4 separate regions of the Homo sapiens genome follow, and all the other regions are reported to be linked to region 4. The links are microRNA targets in miRTarBase. Many come from high-throughput screens and were not tested one by one. Region 4 holds a microRNA gene; each other region holds the end of a gene's coding sequence.
Evidence for each region. The annotated mature microRNA hsa-miR-6854-5p reads AAGCUCAGGUUUGAGAACUGCUGA and lies in region 4 at 1,893-1,916, shown strand. An mRNA with a match to its seed (bases 2 to 7 or 8) in the 3' UTR can be bound and repressed. Matches are read on the target gene's strand: a 7mer-m8 pairs with bases 2 to 8, a 7mer-A1 pairs with bases 2 to 7 and ends in A, and an 8mer does both.

Region 1 (5,148 bases), not on the chromosome of region 4:
AATCCTTACTTATGCTAGTATTCAATAAACAACTACTGCAAGATTACAATTACAGACCACTAATTTTCAAAAAGTATGTTTTTTTGTTTTTTTTTTTTTTTGAGACGAAGTCTCTCTTGTCCCCAGGCTGGAGTGCCATGGCTCAATCTTGGCTCACTGCAGCCTCCACCTCTTGGGTTCAAGCGATTCTCCTGCCTCAGCCTCCCGAGTAGCTGGAATTACAGGCGCCTGCCACCACACCCAGCTAATTTTTGTAATTTTAGTAGAGACGGGGTTTCACCATGTTGGCCAGGCTGGTCTCGAACTCCTGACCTCAGGTGATCCAGCCGCCTCGGCCTCCCAAAGTGCTGGGATTTCAGGCGTGAGCCACCCTGCCCGGCTGCTTTTTCAAGTAGTACGCGTTCATTGAACTGACTTAATGCAGAGCTAGACTCAGATATTTTCCTTTTCTGTTGCTAGCCAACTGTTAAAATACGACTGAAAATATTTTCTGAACATCATGTACATTTGTAAACTAAAAATAGAGCATTTGGCCGGGCACAGTGGCTCACGCCTGTAATCCCAGCATTTTGGGAGGCCGAGGCAGGCACATCGCCTGAGGTCGGGAGTTTGAGACCAGCGTGACCAACATGGAGAAACCCCATCTCTCTACCAAAAACACAAAATTAGCCGGGCGTGGTGGCGCATGCCTATAATCCCAGCTACTGGGGAGGCTGAGGCAGGAGAATCGCTTGAACCCAGGAGGCAGAGGTTGCGGTGAGCGGAAGCTTGCCATGAGCCGAGATGGTGCCATTGCACTCCAGCCTGAGCAACAAGAGCAAAACTCTGTCTCAAAAAAAAAAAAAAGAGCATTTTACTTTAGAAAATATGCATATATTGGTCTTAAAAGTCACTAAAAATTAAACCAATATAACTGTGTCAATTTGGCATCAAAATCTACCCTGCCTATATCAAGAAAGTGTTGCACAGTACATTTTGCAAAATATTCAGTGCATCTTAAGTACTCAAGAACAGTTCATTAAAGAAATTTTACTCACCTTCTTTTTACCCATTGGCCTTGAATTTAAGCAAGATAACCCTTATCTTAGTCACAAGAAGCTTCAGGAGGAGAAAGTATTAACATGTTTAATTTTTACAGATATTTTATATGCTTTCAGATATTCCTCAGGAAGTCGAGACATGCTGTCCTATGTAATTTTAGATTTACTAGTAGCCACATTAAACAATGGCAAAATGAGGATAATTAATTTTTCAATATATTTTAACACAATGTCAAAAATATTTCAACATGCAATCAATATGAAAAAAATTGAGATATTTTAACATTTTTCTTTCCATACTGAGTCTTCAAAATCCAGTGTGAATTTTATATTTATAGATCTCAATTCAGACTAGCCACATTTCAAGTGCTCAATAGCCACTGGTGGCTAAAAGTTACTGTATTGGACAACACACATCTAGAGTCTAACCCCCTTCTATCTCCAGTATAATCACCTTAAAATGTACAAAGTATATAAAAGGTAACCCAAAATTAAGTAGTGCTCTGTTAAAATGCAAGTGAAAGATTTAATGTTGAAAGTGTTTAGACGTTTTCTAATGACTAAAAGGGGAAATAGTTATTTAGGAATGGCATTGCAAATCTTTTTGACATTTTCCCATTTGCTCATTAAATCTTTCTGAGAACTAGGTTATTTTGTTCTTTTTCCTCCATCTGAGTTTTGTCATTCAATATTTATCTGCTGACAACTATGCAAAACATTATGCTAGATGGGCTGGGTGCGGTGGCTCACGCCTGTAATCCCAGCACTTTGGGAGGCTGAGGTGGGCTGATCACGAGGTCAGGAGATGGAGACCATCCTGGCTAACATGGTGAAACCCCATCTCTACTAAAAATACAAAAAATTAGCCGGGCGTGGTAGCACGTGCCTGTAGTCCCAGCTACTCGGGAGGCTGATGCTGGAGAACTGCTTGAAACCGGGAGGCGGAAGTTGCAGTGAGCCGAGATCGCGCCACTTGCGCTCCAGCCTGGGCAAGAGTGGGACTCTATCTCAAAAAAAAAAAAAAAAAATGCTAGATGCAATGAACCATGTAAAATGCACTGCATCTCCACTTTCACAAAGTTTCCAAACTACTGAGAGGAAAAGAGTGAACATGGGAAAAACATGAAAATATAATCTCTGTATTTTATTTTACTGTATCACTCTGTTAATTCTTTGTTTGCTTATCAGTCCTTCCCCAGTTCCCCAAAGAAGGGAATGGACTTTATCTTCTTACTCTTTTTCTCTATTTGTGGAATTCACTGTAATGAATAATTATGTTAATTTTCTAGAACAGAGGTCCCTCCAAAGTACACTAAGTGCATAAAGAAACATTTATCTCCTCTATGGGGAACAGAAAGACTTTGGCAGAGGAATTACCAAGGGCAGGCCTTGAAGGATTTGACAGAAGAGAACAGTGAGGAAGTTTAAAGAAAAAAAGGAAGTTTTTACAGATGAGAAAGTATGAAAATAGAGGAGTACATCACATATGATAGGTACTCCCTGCATACAAGTTAATAAAAAGAAGAGCCTGAATAACCTGAGAATATAATTTATGGAGACAGAAATGGAGGATTTGAGCAACTGAAGGGGAGGTTGTGCTGCATAAACTACATGGAAAAAAGTGATTGAGTAAGCAGTTGCAACTGCTAACGTTTTAAGGCAAACTACCTTGGAAGGTACCAAACATACCGTGCCCTGCTTTCTTCTCTTTGGGATAATGTCTATTGTGTCCATTTAAGGACTTTAATGATTCTGTAATTTTTAGTTAACATCAATTTAAGGACTTTAATGATTTTAATCCATTAAGAACTTTAATGATTTTAATCCATTAAGAACTTTAATGGATTAAAGGACTTTAATGATTCCATAATTTTTAATTAATATGAACAACTTCATTCAAGCATTACATTTATGGGTAAGGTGAAAAATAAGAAATCTAGCAGAACAACATGCTTTTATTTTACCATCATGCATAAAAAGGAAGACAAATATGCCAATGGTACACTTCCAATTTGTCAGAGCAATTTCACAGTATTTAAGCAATTTAGGAAAAAAGATATATCACTTACTAAGTTGTTACCAGGGAAAATTATCATGTAAGACAATCAATTAAACCATACTTTTGTAGATTATTTTTCCATGAAGGCAATTTGACAAGCCTAACAAAGACCAAGTTGTTCAAACTATGTTTCTAGGAATATAGTTTAACAGAAACAAGAACAAGTTGAAAACTGTTATGACTATTCATATGTCTCTATATTGTACAGGCAAGTAAGACTGTTGTTCTTCCAAATGTTCCCAATTGAAATCAAAAGAATATCTGTACAGCTCAATTTTCACAATAAGTTTAGAATCAGAAAAAAAAATTTTACTAAATCCTAATGAAATAACAATCTTCCACATAAATTAGGTCACAAAACAAGTAAGAAAGCATTCAAAGTTGCGCTGTCTTTCTTTAAAGAACCCTTGTCTAGGCAACATATTTAACACTTTAACCCCTTCAATTCTCCCTGAAAAGTATTTTTCCATTCATCATCATTGGGGAGTAAGTACTCCTTCCTCGAAAGCTCTTAACGACAGCACAGTCTTCACTCTAGGCCCAATTTTTACCTGGCCCATGCCTCTAGCCTTTTGTTCAGTTTCTCCTGCTTAGGGCACCTTTCATCCCATCTAGATGTGTCTCTCTTTAACTATTCTAGGAGTTGATAAAAGGGCTAGGAAGTAGGAAGTTGGGAAGAAGGGGAGGGGCGTAAGAGCTCTAGCACTCTATTTTACAGGCCAACTTCTTTGCCTCTGAAAATGACAGAGCCAAAATGAAATAAAAACCTTGCTTTTACAAATGTTTCTGAGCTATCACTTTTTTAAGAGAGGATTGGGAGGCTAAGGAGGGCGGATCACGAGATCGGGGTTCGAGACCAGCCTGGCCAGCATGGTGAAACCCCGTCTCTACTAAAAATATAAAAATTAGCCGGGCGTGGCGGCGCGCGCCTGTAGTCCCAGCTACTCGGGAGGCTGAGGCAGGAGAATCGCTTGAACCCGGGAGGTGGAGGTTGCAGTGAGCCGAGATCGCGCCACTGCACTCCAACCTGGGCGACAGAGCAAGACTCCGTCCTCCGTCTCAAAAAAAAAAAAAAAAAAAAAAAAAAGGAAAACAGGGAGAGAGAGGGACCTTGGCAGGAGCCAATGTAGGGCAGGTAGCAATAGAAAGTGACTAGAGGTGAAGGAAGAGCAATGAAGTACCATAAATCACACAGAACAAGTGGCTCACTGCTTTTCTCCTCTGAGTTCATTAACGTCCAGTAACTGTCCACAGGGCATGTGCCCATACTGCTCAATGCAGAGCTGAGTAGGTGGAACAGGCTCCCAAAGCTAGAAATCCAAGTGACAGCAACCAGTTCAGAGGCCCTGGGAATAAACAGGGTCCAAGCAGTGCAGATAAAGGCAGTACAATCTACAGTATCATTTGCTTGGCTTACAAGTAGTGTGAAGGATGACCTCGTAGCATGTGATATTCCAGAACAGCATGAAGGTCATATGGAAGTGGAGAAGCATACCCACCACCGTCTCAATCTTGAGGTTGAGAGAACTGAATATCCAAAGGAAACAGGGTGCAGAAAAGTCAGCAAAAACAAAGCACAATAGAAGGCATACTCATTGCTGATGCCCAAGCACAGGTCCAGCAGAAGGTGGTAGGAGACCTTGTGCAGGAGTATTCCCAAGGGCAAATGTTAACCAGACTGGAACCCAAAGGGCCTGGGGATCTCTACAGGCTCCCTTAGCGGGCGACGTCGGGCTCTACGGACTCCTTCACGCAACAGGTAGTATTGCAGTGGATTTGGCCACAGATCCTCTTTAATAATCTCAGCAATTTTGTCGGACTCTGGAAGGCTGTGGTCTGAAAACCAAGTGAAGAAGCTGCAGATGAGGTCTTGGTTTCTGCGAATGAAGGACTGGGGTTCATGCCCCCTGCGCCATATAATTGGAGTAGAAAGAGACACCACTCGGCCGGAGGATCTTACCTCATATTCCTTGACAATCAGCTTGTTTCTGAAGTAGGGGTTTCTTCTAAAGAAGAACTTGAACTTGCAACCGGTTCTAGGGTGTCTGA
Region 2 (5,129 bases), not on the chromosome of region 4:
TATACTCAGCGTTCAAGCCTCACTAAACATCTGGTAATTCATACTGGAGAGAACCCTTACCACTGTAATGAATTTGGTGAGGCTTTTATCCAAAGTTCAAAACTTGCAAGATATCACAGAAATCCTACTGGGGAGAAACCACACAAATGTAGTGAATGTGGTAGAACTTTTAGTCATAAAACAAGTCTGGTGTACCATCAGAGAAGACATACTGGAGAGATGCCATACAAATGTATTGAATGTGGGAAAGTCTTTAACTCCACTACAACCCTGGCAAGGCATCGGAGAATTCATACTGGAGAGAAACCTTACAAATGTAATGAATGTGGCAAGGTCTTCCGTTATCGCTCAGGCCTCGCACGTCATTGGAGTATTCATACTGGAGAGAAACCTTACAAATGTAATGAGTGTGGCAAAGCCTTTAGAGTACGTTCAATTCTGCTTAATCATCAGATGATGCATACTGGAGAGAAACCTTATAAATGTAATGAATGTGGTAAAGCTTTTATCGAAAGGTCAAACTTGGTTTACCATCAGAGAAACCATACTGGAGAGAAGCCATACAAATGTATGGAATGTGGCAAGGCGTTTGGGCGGCGGTCTTGCCTCACTAAACACCAACGAATTCATTCTAGTGAAAAACCTTATAAATGTAATGAGTGTGGCAAATCTTACATTAGTCGCTCAGGCCTCACTAAACATCAGATAAAACATGCTGGAGAGAACCTTACAACTAAACTCAATGTGGAAAGGCCGTTAGATGTTGTCCTAACCTCTGGGATCCCCAAATAATTTATACTTACTCATATAGCTTGTATATTTGTCCTTTCCCTTTGAAGTCTCATGTGGAATTGTAGTAATCTCCAGTATTGGAGGTGGAGCCTAGTGGGAGGTGATTGGATGATGGGGGTGGCTTTCTCAAGAAAGTTTTAGTACCATCCCCTTGTTGCTGTCCTTGTGATAGTTCTCATGAGGTCTGGCTCATGCCTGTAATCCCAGCACTTTGGGAGGCTGAGGTGGGCGGATCACTTGAGGTCAGGAGTTCAAGAGCAGCCTGGCCAACATGGTGAAACCCTGTTTCTGCCAAAAATACAAAAATTAGCTGGGCTTCGTGGCGGGTACTGGTAGTACCAGCTACTCGAGAGGCTGAGTCAGGAGAATTGCTTGAACCCTGGAGGCGGAGGTTGCAGTGAGCCGAGATCGCGCCACTGCACTCTAGCCTGGGTGACAGAGTGAGACTCCATCACGCACACGCACGCACGAAAGTGAATGGCACCTCCCTCTTGTTTGTTCTTCTGGCCATGTGACATGCCCTTCACCTCCCACCATCATTTTAACCTTCCTCAGGTTTCCCGAGAGGGTGAACAGACGTCAGCGCCATGTTTCCTATAAAGCCTGCAAAATTGTGAGTCAATTAAACCTCTTTATACATTACCTAGCCTCAGGTATTTCTGTCTAGCCATGCAATTATGGCCTAATATATTTACACATGGAGTGAATATAGCTAAGTTTTTTTTTTTTTTTTTTTTTTTTTTTTTTTTTTTTGGAGACGGAGTCTCGCTCTGTCGCCCAGGCGGGACTGCGGACTGCAGTGGCGCAATCTCGGCTCACTGCAAGCTCTGCTTCCTGGGTTCACGCCATTCTCCTGCCTCAGCCTCCCGAGTAGCTGGGACTACAGGCGCTCGCCACCGCGCCCGGCTAATTTTTTTTGTATTTTTAGTAGAGACGGGGTTTCACCTTGTTAGCCAGGATGGTCTCGATCTCCTGACCTCATGATCCACCCGCCTCGGCCTCCCAAAGTGCTGGGATTACAGGCGTGAGCCACTGCGCCCGGCCAGAATATAGCTAAGTTTTAAGCAAGTGTTCACTAGGCATAAGAATATACATCCTGGAGAGAAATCACAGAAGTGTAGTATATGTGGCAAGAATACTACTTAAAGGTCAAAACTTGTGGATCTATAACTCAAAGTGCAGATATGCTTTACAAATGAAATGAGGGTGGCAGAAGCTTCACCAGAGTTCAGTCACTACTTGAGAGTTTATATTGGAAAGAAATCGTATAAATGTATGTGCTAGAGGCTTCCCCGAGGTGTCTGAACTCACTAGACCTCAGAATATACATCTTTGACAAATGTAATGTGTGTGCTAAGACTTTTTACCCGAACATCCAAATGGAAACATCAGAGTATTCATACTGGAGAACAGTCTTACAAATGTAACGAATGTGGTAAGCCTTTTTAAAAATCAAATGGGCTGGGTATGGTGGCTCACACCTGTAATCCCAGCACTTTGGGAGGCCGAGGTGGGTGGATCATCTGATGTCAGGAGTTTGAGACCGGCCTGGCCAGCATGGTGAAACCCCATCTCTACTAAAAAATACAAAAATTAGCTGGGCAGTGGTGGGCACCTGTAATCCCGCTACTTGGGAGGCTGAGGCAGAAGAATCACTTGAATCCAGGATGTGGAGGTTGCTGTAAGCCGAGATTGCGCCATTGTACTCCAGCCTGGGTGACAAGAGTGAGACTCTGTCTCAAAAAAATAAAAAAATCAAATGTTCATGTTTTTGGAGTTTGAGAGAATTTATACAGGAAAAAAGTCATATCAGTGTGCTTAACATGGAAGGACCTTTAATCAGTAGTGTGTCTTCAGGCTTTACCAAATTATTCATACTGGATAGAAACCTTGCAAATGTAATTAACGTGGTAAAATTTTAAACCATTTCTCAGCCAGATGCGGTGGCTCACGCCTGTAATCCCAGCACTTTGGGAGGCCGAGGCAGGCAGATCACGAGGTCAGGAAATCGAGACCATCCTGGCTAACACGGTGAAACCCCGTCTCTACTAAAAATACAAATAATTAGCCAGGCGTGGTGGCACGTGCCTGCAGTCCCAGCTACTTAGGAGGCTGAGGCATGAGAATTGTTTGAACCCGGGAGGCTGAGCTTGCAGTGAGCCGAGATTGCACCACTGCACTCCAGCCTGGGCGACAGAGCAAGACTCCGTCTCAAAAAAAAAAAAAAAAAAAAAATTTCTCAACAGATTCCATGTTAGGTAAATCATACTATGGATAACTAAGTCTGCTTCTCCATCCAGGATTGACCTGGAATGATACATACGGTAAAATAACCACAAGACAAAATTTGTTAAAACCCCAGGTAATATGTACATCAAAGGATCAAGAGCGTGTGTGGAAATGGCCAATTCAGTATATAAAATAATTGTATTCACTTTGACATTTCTTAAAAAGGCTAGTTGACTATTTGTGACCTTCATCCTAAAGTATGAAGTCTTGCCTTTCCTACACATCTTTCATTGTGGTCTCTGGGAATAAATCAGTAAGGTGAGAGGGCCTGCTTCATTAGGTGTGGTTCCTTCATATCCATGTTTTCTGGAAGATTAAGGTCACTGTACTGTGTGAGTTAAGCAGCATGGAATATGGTGGAGAATGATGTAAATTTACAATGTAAGTCACTGAGCTTGTTGTGTTCAGAGTGTCCTTTGACAAATACAGTGTTGCTTTGGGATATGGGAAACATACGGAGTATGTTTCACTAACCTAAAAATCTGTGCTCCACCTAGATTTGTACATTCTTTTCACTTCTGTCACTTGTTGCTTCACATGTTTTGCAGCTGGTTTTAAGTGCATACAGACAAGATTCTCAAATCATCTTTGTAAATTGACATTATTATCATGTCACCACCCTGTTGCCCAGGCTGGAGTGCAATAGTAATAAGGTCAACTTTTGGAACCCTTCTGCAAATTTCCTAGGATTTTTAGAGTAGCTTCCTAGCTTTTCCTTACATTGCTGTATATCAGTTATAGAGAAGGGGACCTGCAATAGGACTGGCCATTCGGCTCCTGCTGCTTCCCTACGGGGTAGCAAGGCTGGAGGGAGAGTAGAATATGGTGTTCCCCACTGAGTGTTTGGGGGACTTAGTAGGGTCCCCAGTGTTTGCTCCTGGTTTTAGCCTCAGGAGCACTTGGTAAGGGGGCTATAGGGATGGTCGCTCTTCACCCTTAGAGACAAGTGGCTCTTGTAAAAGGGGGTCATCTGGTTTGGCACGGTGGCTCACGCCTGTAATCCCAGCACTTTGGGAGGCCGAGCTGGGCAGATCACCTGAGGTCGGGAGTTCGAGACCAGCCTGACCAACATGGAGAAACCCCGTCTCTACTAAAAATACAAAATTAGATGGGCATGGTGGTGTGTGCCTGTAATCCCAGCCACCTGGGAGGCTGAGGCAGGAGAATTGCTTGAACCTGGGAGGTGGAGGTTGCAGTGAGCGGAGATCAAGCCATTGCACTCCAGCCTGGGCGATGAGAGCAAAACTCTGTCTCAAAAAAGAAAAAGTAAGAGTGGGGGGGATCATCTATAATATCTAATTCTACCTTAGAACTTTCCTTTGGTGGTGGGGGTGGGTTCTGGGAGTTTGACAGATTGCTAGGTTTTGGTATAAGGTCATAAAATCCTGTGCATATGGGATTTCTGACCATTTGCCCTGCCTCTTGCAAAATAGGTCTAATGGCAGGATGGTGTCATAATTAAGGCTACCAAGACTGCCCATTGTTCCAGGCTGGGCAGTTCATAATGGGGGCAGACAATAGTGCAAAAAAAATTTTACATTTTATCTTTAGAGTGTCAGGGTCAAATTGATTTCCATGGTTGAGGATGTAGCCAAGTGTGGAATCAGGTGGAATAGGTGGAGAGTTGCCCATAGTGGTTTGGAAAAGAGAAGAGGACTTTGAAAAGTGGAGGGCTCATTAGGTGACCCAAATTTTACCTGGGGCATCCCCCCTTTAGGGCCCCAACTTAGTCTGTCAGACATCTCTGACCTTAGATGGGTGCTGGCACCACTTTGGAATGGTTCCCTCCATCACTGAGGACCTGACTTAAAGTTTTTCTATCTCACTTAAAACAACCCTTTAACGCTCTCAACTTAGGCAATAATAAATTCCTTTTCATGAATTCCCTCCACCACCATGCACCACACAGACCACATGCCCGGACCCTCTGACTTGTGTAACCTTTTGTGCATAGCTAGGTGGGTTTTCTGTCCTTTGCCAGTTGGGTGGGAGAAGGGAAGAATTTAGCATAAATAAAAGCAGCATAAGTCACCTGAAACCTGTGAGTT
Region 3 (5,148 bases), not on the chromosome of region 4:
GTGGTTTGCTGTGTGCCAATCTTCTGCTAAGCAATCACATCTTTCCCGTAATGTTGACAGCAACTCTCAGGGGTTGAGCTGAACCAACCTTTTGTACATATGGGAGCTGCAGCCCAGAAGGGTTCAGCCCAAGGCTCCACAGCTAGCAAGTGGTAGAGCTGTGTTGGGACCTAGCTCTGGCCCACCCTCTATGCCCACTAGTCCCTTGGTCTCAGGCTGGGGCAGGGGTGTGGAGGATGTTGGTCTTCCCTGTCCTCATGTCTGTAGAGTACATCCCCTCACCCCGCCTTCGGAGGGAGGCTGGCTTTCCCTGGAGACGGACCGCCACCTGTTTTATGAGAGGTAGCGGAGGCCTTATGGAGCCTCAGGGCCAGCCGCTCTGACGCATGGCTTCCTCTTGAAGATGAAACCTTGCTCCACCTTCTTCCTCCCTAACCCCAGGTGGAATTCCCAGAGGCCCGAATCTATGAGGAGACACTCAACGTCCTACTCTATGAGACTCCCCGCGTCCCCGACAACTCCTTGTTGGAGGCCACAAGCCGTAGCCGCAGCCAGGCTTCCCCCAGTGAAGATGAGGAGACCTTTGAACTGCGGGACCGTGTCCGCCGCATCCACGTCAAGCGCTACAGCACTTACGATGACCGGCAGCTCGGCCACCAGTCTACCCATCGCGACTGACCAGACCCTCAGGGAGTCAGGGCACGGGAGGCCCTATCTCCCATCCTGTGGAACCCGCCCCATTGGCCACCCCATGCTGCTGCTGCCTGGGTCTCTGCTCTAGCACCCAGAGGCATGACAGGCCCTGCTCAGAGGTCAGAGGGTCTGGGCAGAGGAGGGACCACATTCCCCTGCCTTGCCCCTGAGCACTTCTGGAGACTGCGTCCTGTCCTATCTGCTCACCATCACCCTTCCTGCCCGACGGAGCTGCTTCTGCTCCCTGGGGCATATGGACTGACCCACCTCCTGCTGAGAACCTTCCCCTAGGCCCTGTGCAGAAGGCTACTGCCCCTTAGGCCTCAGCTGGGGGAAAGGCAGTTCTGGTGCTGTAGAGGCCCTGGTGCAGAAAGTGGGACGTCTTTTTTCCTAAGGTGTTTAAGCACAGGCTTGATAAGTTTGGTTTTTAAAAAATAATCTAGGAAATGAATAATTCTAAATCTAGTAATGAGGAAACTGAGCATTTCTTTTGCCCTCCAGGGTGCCAAGACCCTACATATGACAGAACCCTTGGCCCTTCTCCATGCCTGTGGGATCTGTTTCTTTAAAGCACTTTGTACTGTTATTCAGGAGGTTGATAATCTCCTTGACCCATGTCTTTCTACCCTAATCCCCACTTCCCTGCAGAATCAATCTGAGGGAGGGGATAAAGAGGAAGCAATAAAAAAAAAACATCCGACAGAGCAGCTCTGGCTTTGCAGCCTGGCCAGCAGCTCAGAGTGCACCGAGGAGGGAAGGATGGCTAAGCTGGGACCGGCAGTCCTCACAGGGTGCCTGTGAGAAAGGACATTTTACCCCCACATCATAGTCACATCACTGACTCCTAGGTCTAGCACGACTGCTCTTTGTGATTCTCTTGAGTACCCTTGGCTTCCAGCCATGCTGTCCTCACATACGGTAAAGCCAAAGAGCTGTCACATGGGCCAGAAACATGAGCCACGGCAGGAAGACCGTGGAGCCCGTGGGCACTGCATGGTGTTGGCTGGCATGCCCATCAGCTGAGGACAGCAAACTCCCAGCAGCCCCTACAGAGGTGGCACATGCTTGGCCACACATCTACTCCCTGCCCACACCATCTATGCTCTTGGTTGGTGCTGGCTGGGATGGCGGTTCTGCCCAGTGGTGTCTCTGAGCGCGGGATGACAGGAGCAACCGAAGCACCCTGAAGGCCTTCACTCCTTGTTGGGTAACTCAGCCATGGAGATGCCAAGCACTAGCCAGGAGGTGAGTTCCTCTTTAGGGCTTTGGTTTTCATTCCTTTTTGTTTGGCTTGGCCAAACCAGAATTCAGCTTATCTGAATTATTTTCCAAAGGAATGCTGTCAGGGAGGGACTGTTCTGCCAGCCTAACAAAGCAACGTAGCCACGTATAGTACCCACTTTCTGCTCTTTGGAGAGAACACAGGTTATCAAGTTCATCTCTCTTGACTACTCTTATGATAGCTGATGCCACAGAGCCTATGGGCAAATGCCAGACCCAGGGTTAGACACAAGGACCTGAAGTGACATGACGGCGGGACAGGGGAAATGTGACTTTCTAATTAGGCATTTTATGTTAGTCACAGTCTTGAATGTATAAACAGCACTAAGACTCTCAGGTCAGGTACCTTGGTGATCAGCTACTAGTTCTTCCAGCCCTCATTGAGGTAACAAGATAAAGACAAATCCACTTCTTTGGCCAAATTCAGGCTTTGGCTTTATGACTTTCCCACAGAGACTGGAATGCGTCAGCCTGAGACCACTGGCCTATTTTCTCAGCTGCCCTCTTGAGGTCCTTTAACACTCAAATTCCCAGCTCCCCACTGAGGTGTTGTGATGCTTGCCTTTTGACCTCCCCATCCCCTTTAGTCCCTGCTTACTACTTTGACATTCACATCCTCAGTGTCTCAGTCTTTTTTGCCGAGAAAGCACAGTAGTCTGGGACTGGGCATTTATCTTCTCTGACTGAAAATCTCTCCTTGGTCTTAAGGAAAATACTAACATTGAACTCACTGACATGATCTTAGCTTCTTTAATCAGACTTTGTGACTTAAAAGTTTGGGGGTTTTCTTTGAAAGTTTCCAGCCCTATTCAGAAAGCAACTCTTGGCTGTGTGCATTTTTCAACTCCAAGCAGCCCAGGGGTAAGTAAACAAAGTATGGATGAAGGTCAGATTTTCTTGTCAGTTTCTGAGAAACCTGGCAGCCTGCTGTTAACAACACAGGCCAGTATTGGGTTTTATTGAATTTGGTATGTGACCAAGGTCGGCCTAAAGGATGGCGCAGGTCCTGGGCAGGAAAGAATTTTTCCTTTATCACATAACTGTAATATTTGGTTGCTCAGCATAAGTGATGGAAGCAAACACTAATTTCTAATAAAATTGTGTTAAACTCAATGGTACAGAGCCATGTTTACAGTGAGCAGGCCTTGACCAGCTTGCGGCCATGGGCTGAGTTCCTGTGCTTCTGTTTATCATCTGACCTTGTGTTCTAGCCAGGTCGTAAGCGCGACTGTACTGTTGCCCTGCAACCCCAGCTCCCCCTGGAGGACTAAGGACAAGAATAACAAGGGCTGGAACTGTGATTTAATATTAATTCAAGAAAACTACCTCTAACAATCACTGCAGTGGCGGAGGAAAAGAAATCCTAAGAATTGGGGCAAGATGCAGCACAATTCATCTCTGGCTCTTGGAAATCTGAGAGAAGCTCAGGAAGTAGCTTGACTTAGTCATCAATCCATACCTAAAGCTGCTCCTCAGCCAAATTCCTGCATTTGTGGTCTGGATGCTTGGCAGAGTCATGCTGAGGGCTGGCACACCCATTGCTCCAGGAAACCCGACTGGCTTGCCTCCCTCCTCTCCTGGGCCTAGCGAGGCCAGAAATGGCAATGGTCGGTCAGTGCTAAGAGCCAGGCCACTCCGACCCTGACACTGGCCTCCCTCTCTGCATTTGGCAGAAGGTAAAGTGAACAAGAGTCCAGTCCAGCACCCCCGCCAACTAGCTGAGAGGCACAGTGACCCTAGGAGATGTCCAGCCAGCCTCCAGGCTGAGAGGGAAACAGGCACATGCCCTACCAGGGGGGCAGCTCCCTGGAAGGGCAGCAAAGAAAGCAGTCAAGGGCGCACACTGGGTCAGAAGGGGAGCCTGAGACTCTGGGAGCAGAAATGGCAAGGGTGGCCAAGCGTGCACTGGTTTACTGATCAAACCTCACGTGACAGGCCAGGAAACTCCTCCAGGCCTGTGGCAGCTGAACACAGTTCCTTGGTGGAGAGGTTTACTGGAACATGGTGTAGGCAGGGCTTATGAGGAGGCCAGCCTTGGAGGTGTCCCACATGGGTCTTCTGAAGAAAAGTTATACCACCCCTCCCCACAAAAAGAACCCCACAATCAAATTAAGAGACCCACTGTGGCCCATGATGGGGAGAGAAGAGTTCTGCAGCAATTGTGGGATGAGAGTTGTTCTTCCCGGTGACCAAGCCTGGGCACTTGGGGCCTCAGCTGGCCTACCAGTGAAGGCCTGAGGGTGGTGTCTTCTCATCTTTATTGCTTTCCAGGGAGAAGGGAGGAATCCGAACATCAAAGTGGGAGCCATCAGGTCTTTCAAAGCGGAACGTGCCCCTACAGTCAGAAAGAAGCTGGTTTAGAAGGAGCCAGGGCTGAGGCCTCCTAAGGATCTGGATGGCCCCATGCCCTCAGCTGCCAGCCACAGAGGACATGTGAGCCTGAGCTCTCTTCTATCTCTAGCTCATGACAGGATGACTGGTCCAGAGACCCAAGAGCCCCTCATGGTTATCCATGAAAAGAAAAACACAGCTGCAGTGGCTCACGCCTGAAATCCCAGCATTTTGGGAGGCTGATGCCAGCAGATCACCTGAGGTCACCTGAGGTGGGGAGTTTGAGACCAGCCTGACCAACATGGAGAAACCCCGTCTCCACTAAAAATACAAAATTAGCCGGGCGTGGTGGCGCATGCCTGTAATCCCAGCTACTCGGGAGGCTGAGGCAAGAGAATGGCTTGAACCTGGGAGGCGGAGGTTGCAGTGAGCCAAGATTGTGCCATTGCACTCCAGCCTGGGCAATAAGTGAAACTCCATCTCACAAAAGAAAAAAGGAAAACACAGCTGTCCAGATTCTGGCCTTTAGATACATACTGCATAAGCTAGCCAACTGCATTTTCAGGTAAAGGAGTGAAACACCAAGGGAAAAAACCCAACTATACAAGCAATTCTGCAGCATCAAATCACCAGACCTCTTTAGCCTAAGTCCTCAGTCCACAAATCACAGGGTACTGGGAAACAGGCGGTAATAGAAAATCAGACAAGTCCCACACAACAATATAGCAGATAAGGCTCCCTCTAAGAATGTAACTTGGCCCAGAGTTAATGGCAAGCTCTAAGCTCTCACTTTTCTGACCTACAGCTTCTGTTTGTGGAGCTGGGTGGCCCCTACTGCTGTGC
Region 4 (5,148 bases):
CTGTCCTCAGAGTTGGTGCACAGTCATGTATCAGAGGGCAGCAGTGCTACAAGGAGCTTCCCTGCTCCCCTATACCCCATTACAGGAAGGAGAAAGAGGTAGTACATATTTCTGAGCTCTGCAGGCTGCCTTGTACCCAGTGTAACCTGATTTCTCTTCGATCTGGAACAAGACTGTTCTGGTTTTGCACTCAGCAAGGCACTGTTGTTTTGTTCGTTTGTTTTGAGTCAGAGTCTCGCTCTGTTGCCCAGGCTAAAGCGCACTGGCATGATCTCGGCTCACTACAACCTCTGCCTCCCGGGTTCAAGTGATTTCTGGCTAATTTTTGTATTTTTAGTAGAAACGGGGTTTCACCATGTTGGCCGGGTGGTCTCGAACTCCTGACTTCAAGTGATCTACCCGCCTCAGCCTCCCAAAGTCCTAGGATTACAGGCGTGAGCCACCACGCCCGGCCGAGCAAGGTACTGTTTTTGCACTCAGTGTCTGGTTCCTGTCACCTACTGGAGTAACTCTTTATTTGTTCAAGACTGTTTGGCCAGCCCTTGGCCTGGTCTCATGCTAAGTCATTTGGCCTATCCCCAAAGCCCTGCGTGTCCCCTATCCTGGGATGCCATACCACATTCTTATTTTCAACACCTTTAACACTTTAGTCCCAAGAAATAGGTAATAGTTTACTAAAATGCATACTCCTGCAAATGAGTAATTTGGTTAGGAGATTTAGATAAGATCAATTTACGATCCTACAAAATATCTGAGAGTAGGCAGTAAATGTGGCTGTAAGCTCAGCAGCCAAGGCAAAGAGGGAAATGCAAGCAGCTAGATTATTTCCAGTGTCCATAAGACTAAAAACATATTTTCTTATAAGAAGCAAAGCTTTTCTTGGAAGTTCCTAGGGCTGAAGGGAATTTCTTCTGCTGGGGACTCATAATAGGCATGATGTATATATCCCATGTGAACAAGCTTCTCAAGGGCCCTTGGCTACATAGTCAGGCCCTTAAATGTCCCTTGATGCAGGCTGATGGCAGAGACCAGAAGCACAGCTGGGTCAGGGCAGGACAAGGCAACACAAGGGAATGATTCTCTGATGTTTGGTTTGATTTAAGAATAAAATTTTGATGACTTAAAAACAGTGGGTGGCAAACATTTTTTGTAAAGAGCAAGATAGTAACGATTCGAGGCTTTGTGGGCCATAGGGTTTCTGTTTTAAGCACTCAGTTCTGCCTTTGAGGAGTAAAAGCAGCAATAGACAGCACATAAACAAATGGGCATGGCCGTGTTCTAATAAAGCTTTATTTGTAAAAGCAGGCTGTGGGCTGGATTTGGCCTGTGAACCATAGGTTGTAACCCAGGAGATAAAAGGACTATGCATCCTTGAGACAATCAACTGTGGGGGAAATATATCTCTTAACTTAGCTTGGAATAAGAAGAATCAAGTTAAATGCTTGAGCTGCTCTCTGGAGCAAGAATGCAGAGTACAGACATTCATTTTGTGTTCCTATCATCAGACAGATCTGTGTGCTTTGAAAATCTCCTAGTACATAGAGGTGGGATCCTGAAATAAGGAACAGAACATCCTGCCAGGGCTTGTGCCTGAGGAGAAAGCCACTTGGCAAACACCAGCAGGGTGGCATGAGATAGACCAATGCAGGCTGGGTGGGATCTGAAGGAAGGAGACAGGCACAGTTTAGCAGATGGGCCAGCACAGTGCAATAACGTTTATGTAGGCCAGTGGTTCTCACAGTCTAACCCCTGGACAAGCTGTGTCAGCATCACCTAGGAACTTTTTAGAAGTGCATATTCTCAAGCCCTGCCCCAGACCTATTAAATCCAGAGCTCCGAAATTAGGGCCCAACCATCCGCATTTTAACAAGCCCTCCAGGTGCTTCTAAAGCAAGCTCAGGTTTGAGAACTGCTGATGTCATCAGTCATAACTTCTGCGTTTCTCCTCTTGAGCAGGGAGAGAGCCAGAGGATTCTCCAAAGCCTGCACCCAAGCCTTCTCTGACCATCAGTTTCGCTCAGAAAGCCAAGCGCCAGAACAACACCTTCCCATTCTTTTCTGAAGGAATCACACGGAACCGAACTGCCCAGGAGAAAGTGGCAGCCTTGGAGCAACAGGTTCTGATGCTCACCAAGGAGTTAAAGTCTCAGAAGGTGAGGTCTGGTCCCAGGGAGGCCCCAGGTTCCAGTGGACCCCTCCAGTTCCTGGAGCCTTTCGGATAAGCTAGATGGGACGCATTAGCCGTGCTGGGCACCAGCTACTCTCTGGTCTTTAAAGGCCAAACTGCAGAATGTTGAAATATGCTGTTGATTACTCAAGAACCTGATGTCACTCAAAGTAAGTCACAAAAGGGCACCAAGGGCAGGTATCTCTGGAGATCTACTCTAATAACTGTCTCTTGGACCCCTCCTGGAGGGCCATGCATGGTCTCACCCCCTACCCAGAAAATGACATTATTTAGAGGCAGGTGATCTGGATGCAGGGTCATGGGAGGGGCTGTCGATAGAACTGGGGGGAACTTTGACCTGGCAGCCGATATCTGGGCACAGATATCTGAATGACCGTCACAAGACTGTCACAGGAGAAAGCAAACAAGCAGCATGTGTGTGGCCCAGGGCTAAGCCAGGACCAACACAGAAACAGTGAAAGGAATATTTGGGCTTAATATGGTAAGAAGTTAATTACGAGAGTTACAAGAGCTATATAATAATTGTAGAAAACAGATCTCATACACACAGACATTAAAACTACTCCAAAATCCTACATCCCAGAGAGTAAATGGTATTAAAAGCCAGGGGCTACCTTATGAAGTAGTGAGGGTCCCAGGGCAAAGATGTGAGAGGGCTGCAGCTCCGGGCGGGAGCCCCTCTTTAGAGTGATAAAAGCGACTAAGTTAGGCAGTTGTTACATAAATCCCAACGGTGGGGCCTGGTAGGACCTGTGGTGGCAGTGGCGGGCTCCAGTGAGGGCCCAGACTCCTTTTCCTCTAGAGGAAGGCCTAAGCTTTTGTGTTTGAACTTTGGCTGCCCGGAGGCCCTTTCTGCTTTGTTTTCCAGCCCTGACTCCAGAGGACTTAGGCTGGGGAGGTGGGGCTTATGCCCTATTACCTTCTGAATATTTCTTATAACTTGTACATTTCTTCTTTTCTTTTCTGCCCTATTTTGGTGGGAAGAAATCTAGAAAAAATGCTCTCCCTATACCTAGTTTGGCCCCTCGTCTGCCTTTTCTGCCCCTAAGCAGTGACCACTGTCAGCAGATCTCAGGGGAACCGGCAGAGGCTTCATTCCTGGCATGTCAGAAGTTACTTTTTTTTTTTTTTTTTTGAGACAGAGTCTCATTCTGTCACCCAGGCTGGAGTGCAGTGGTGCAGTCTTGGCTCACTGCAACCTCTGCCTCCCGGGTTCAAGCGATTCTCCTGCCTCAGCCTCCCAAGTAGCTGGGATTACAAGCACCTGCCACCATGCCCAGCTAATTTTTTTTTGTTTTTTGGTTTTTGTTTTTAGTATTTTTATTAGAGACTAGGTTTCACCATGTTGGCAAGGCTGGTTTCGAACTCCTGACCTCAAGTGATCTGCCCACCTCAGCCTCCCAAAGTGCTGGGATTACAGGCGTGAGCCACCGTGCCTGGCCAGGAGTTACATTTAGTGAAGCAACTGGTGATTAGACATTAGAGTTCTCAAAGGAGGGGGCTCATTTATTCATACGTTCTTAACTCATGTGTTTATTCACCAAATTTTTATTAAGGGCCTGTTATGTGCATGCAGTGTTCCAGGTGCTGGGAAAGAACAATGAGCAAAAGACACAGGCTCTGCCCTTACAGCTTGCATTTCATGGCAGAGACAGACATTAAACAAAGCAACACCCAAATGTGTAGTTATAACACGTGAGGTCCCCTCTGCTGCTGCTTAGCAGCCCAGCTGTCTTTTCCTCCTGTCATCATGGTGCTCCAGTTCTGAGGCTGCTGGACGCTCCTGAGAGCTGAGAGGGCATGAAACAGAGCCATAGCAGCTACTTGATCCCTGGACTAGTAGAGCTTAAATCCGAAACCCAAACCTGGAAAGAAAAAGAAATCCTGAATATACGGGCAGCCTCTCTTGACACAGCCTTTCTTTCTAAGACATTACAAATTGTCAGATGAAGTAGAAAGGCCCCAGGAAACCTAGATTTCATGAAAGTTTGCCCCTGATTGCTCTGCATCTCTGGAGGACTCATCATTCTTCAATAAATAAAGGCAAGATTCTTGGAGATTAATAAGGGTTGACCAGGCTATTGACAACTCCCATATATTCAGAGGGAAATTGTCAGGAGGAAGTTGTTGATGCATTGAAGAATCTGGATTTTTTTTCTACCAGGTAACCTTCCACCAAACCTCGACTTTGTGTCCTGGGACAGAGGGTCAAAAGGAGAATGAGTTGTGATTTATTTAGTTTATCCAATTATTGTGCAATAGGAGTGGATTTGTTTACTCTCCAACCCATTCCACAAATGAACTTCAGTCTTCAGGGTGATTCAAAGAACCAGCCTTTAAATAAGACAGCACAGGCTCAAATTCTGGCCCTAAGCAAGTTTCTTAACCTATCTAAGCCTCAGTTTCCTCTTCTGTAAATGGAGTTGCAGCCGTGTTTACTGGAGAGACCTGTGCCCAGATTCATAAAGCCCAGTACCTGGCACCCAGCAGCTGCCCAACAGATGCAGGCTCTGGTTGTTCTGGCGATTACTGCAGCCCTCCTTACCCTCCATGTCAATCTCTTCCTGCCCTACAAGCAGTGAGGTGCCCTGCTGAGGGGCTCAGAGACGAGGCGGGAAGTGAGAGCCCATCAGTGCCTTCAGGAAATGTGCCGTGGGGCCATAGCAGTGATCAGGGAGCTTAGGTCTTCATTCCACATTAGGAAGGGAGGAATGGCAGCCCCGTAACTCTAGGGTTTCACCTGTAGCCCAGATACTGAAACCAAAGAGGTGAGACAGAAAAAGCCAGCACAACTTCTGGGTGCCCAGTGGTGCCCCCAGGCACTCAGAATGCCGCTAGGAGAGCCGCTGTCCATCTGAGACCCTCATTAGAGTCCCATTCATCAGCTGGGAAGATGGGCACCTGGAATCCCAGGAGCTACCCCTGCGAGGTACCTTCCTGTGTTTCTTTAGTGGGAAGGC

Region 1: miRTarBase lists TSPYL1 as a target of hsa-miR-6854-5p. The part of its 3' UTR that is shown has no 7-base or 8-base seed match.
Region 2: the mRNA of ZNF841 is a reported target of hsa-miR-6854-5p. The part of its 3' UTR that is shown has no 7-base or 8-base seed match.
Region 3: the mRNA of POLDIP2 is a reported target of hsa-miR-6854-5p. Seed matches in the 3' UTR shown: 7mer-m8 at 3,396-3,402.

What each region holds. Positions count from the first base shown.
Region 1 is chr6:116,273,749-116,278,896 of GRCh38, forward strand. TSPYL1 (TSPY like 1) reads right to left here. Exons shown (of 1, transcript NM_003309.4): 1 at 1,110-5,148. The coding sequence ends at 4,769. It also overlaps a transcript of DSE not described here. Among named protein-coding and RNA genes, the nearest start is that of TSPYL1, 3.6 kb to the right of the region's middle.
Region 2 is chr19:52,060,770-52,065,898 of GRCh38, reverse strand. ZNF841 (zinc finger protein 841) reads left to right here. Exons shown (of 7, transcript NM_001136499.2): 7 at 1-1,434. The coding sequence ends at 792. It also overlaps the pseudogene LOC100419835. Among named protein-coding and RNA genes, the nearest start is that of ZNF432, 14 kb to the right of the region's middle. RefSeq lists an enhancer at 1-885.
Region 3 is chr17:28,343,923-28,349,070 of GRCh38, forward strand. POLDIP2 (DNA polymerase delta interacting protein 2) reads right to left here. Exons shown (of 11, transcript NM_015584.5): 11 at 2,711-4,309. The coding sequence ends at 4,195. It overlaps TNFAIP1 (TNF alpha induced protein 1), which reads left to right. Exons shown (of 7, transcript NM_021137.5): 7 at 442-3,087. The coding sequence ends at 678. LOC124903963 (a long non-coding RNA gene) reads left to right here and starts at 4,308. Exons shown (of 2, transcript XR_007065687.1): 1 at 4,308-4,407; 2 at 5,111-5,148. RefSeq lists enhancers at 266-769, 1,273-1,776.
Region 4 is chr9:98,225,957-98,231,104 of GRCh38, reverse strand. MIR6854 (microRNA 6854) reads left to right here and starts at 1,888; the gene lies at 1,888-1,956. TBC1D2 (TBC1 domain family member 2) reads left to right here. Exons shown (of 13, transcript NM_001267571.2): 5 at 1,957-2,153.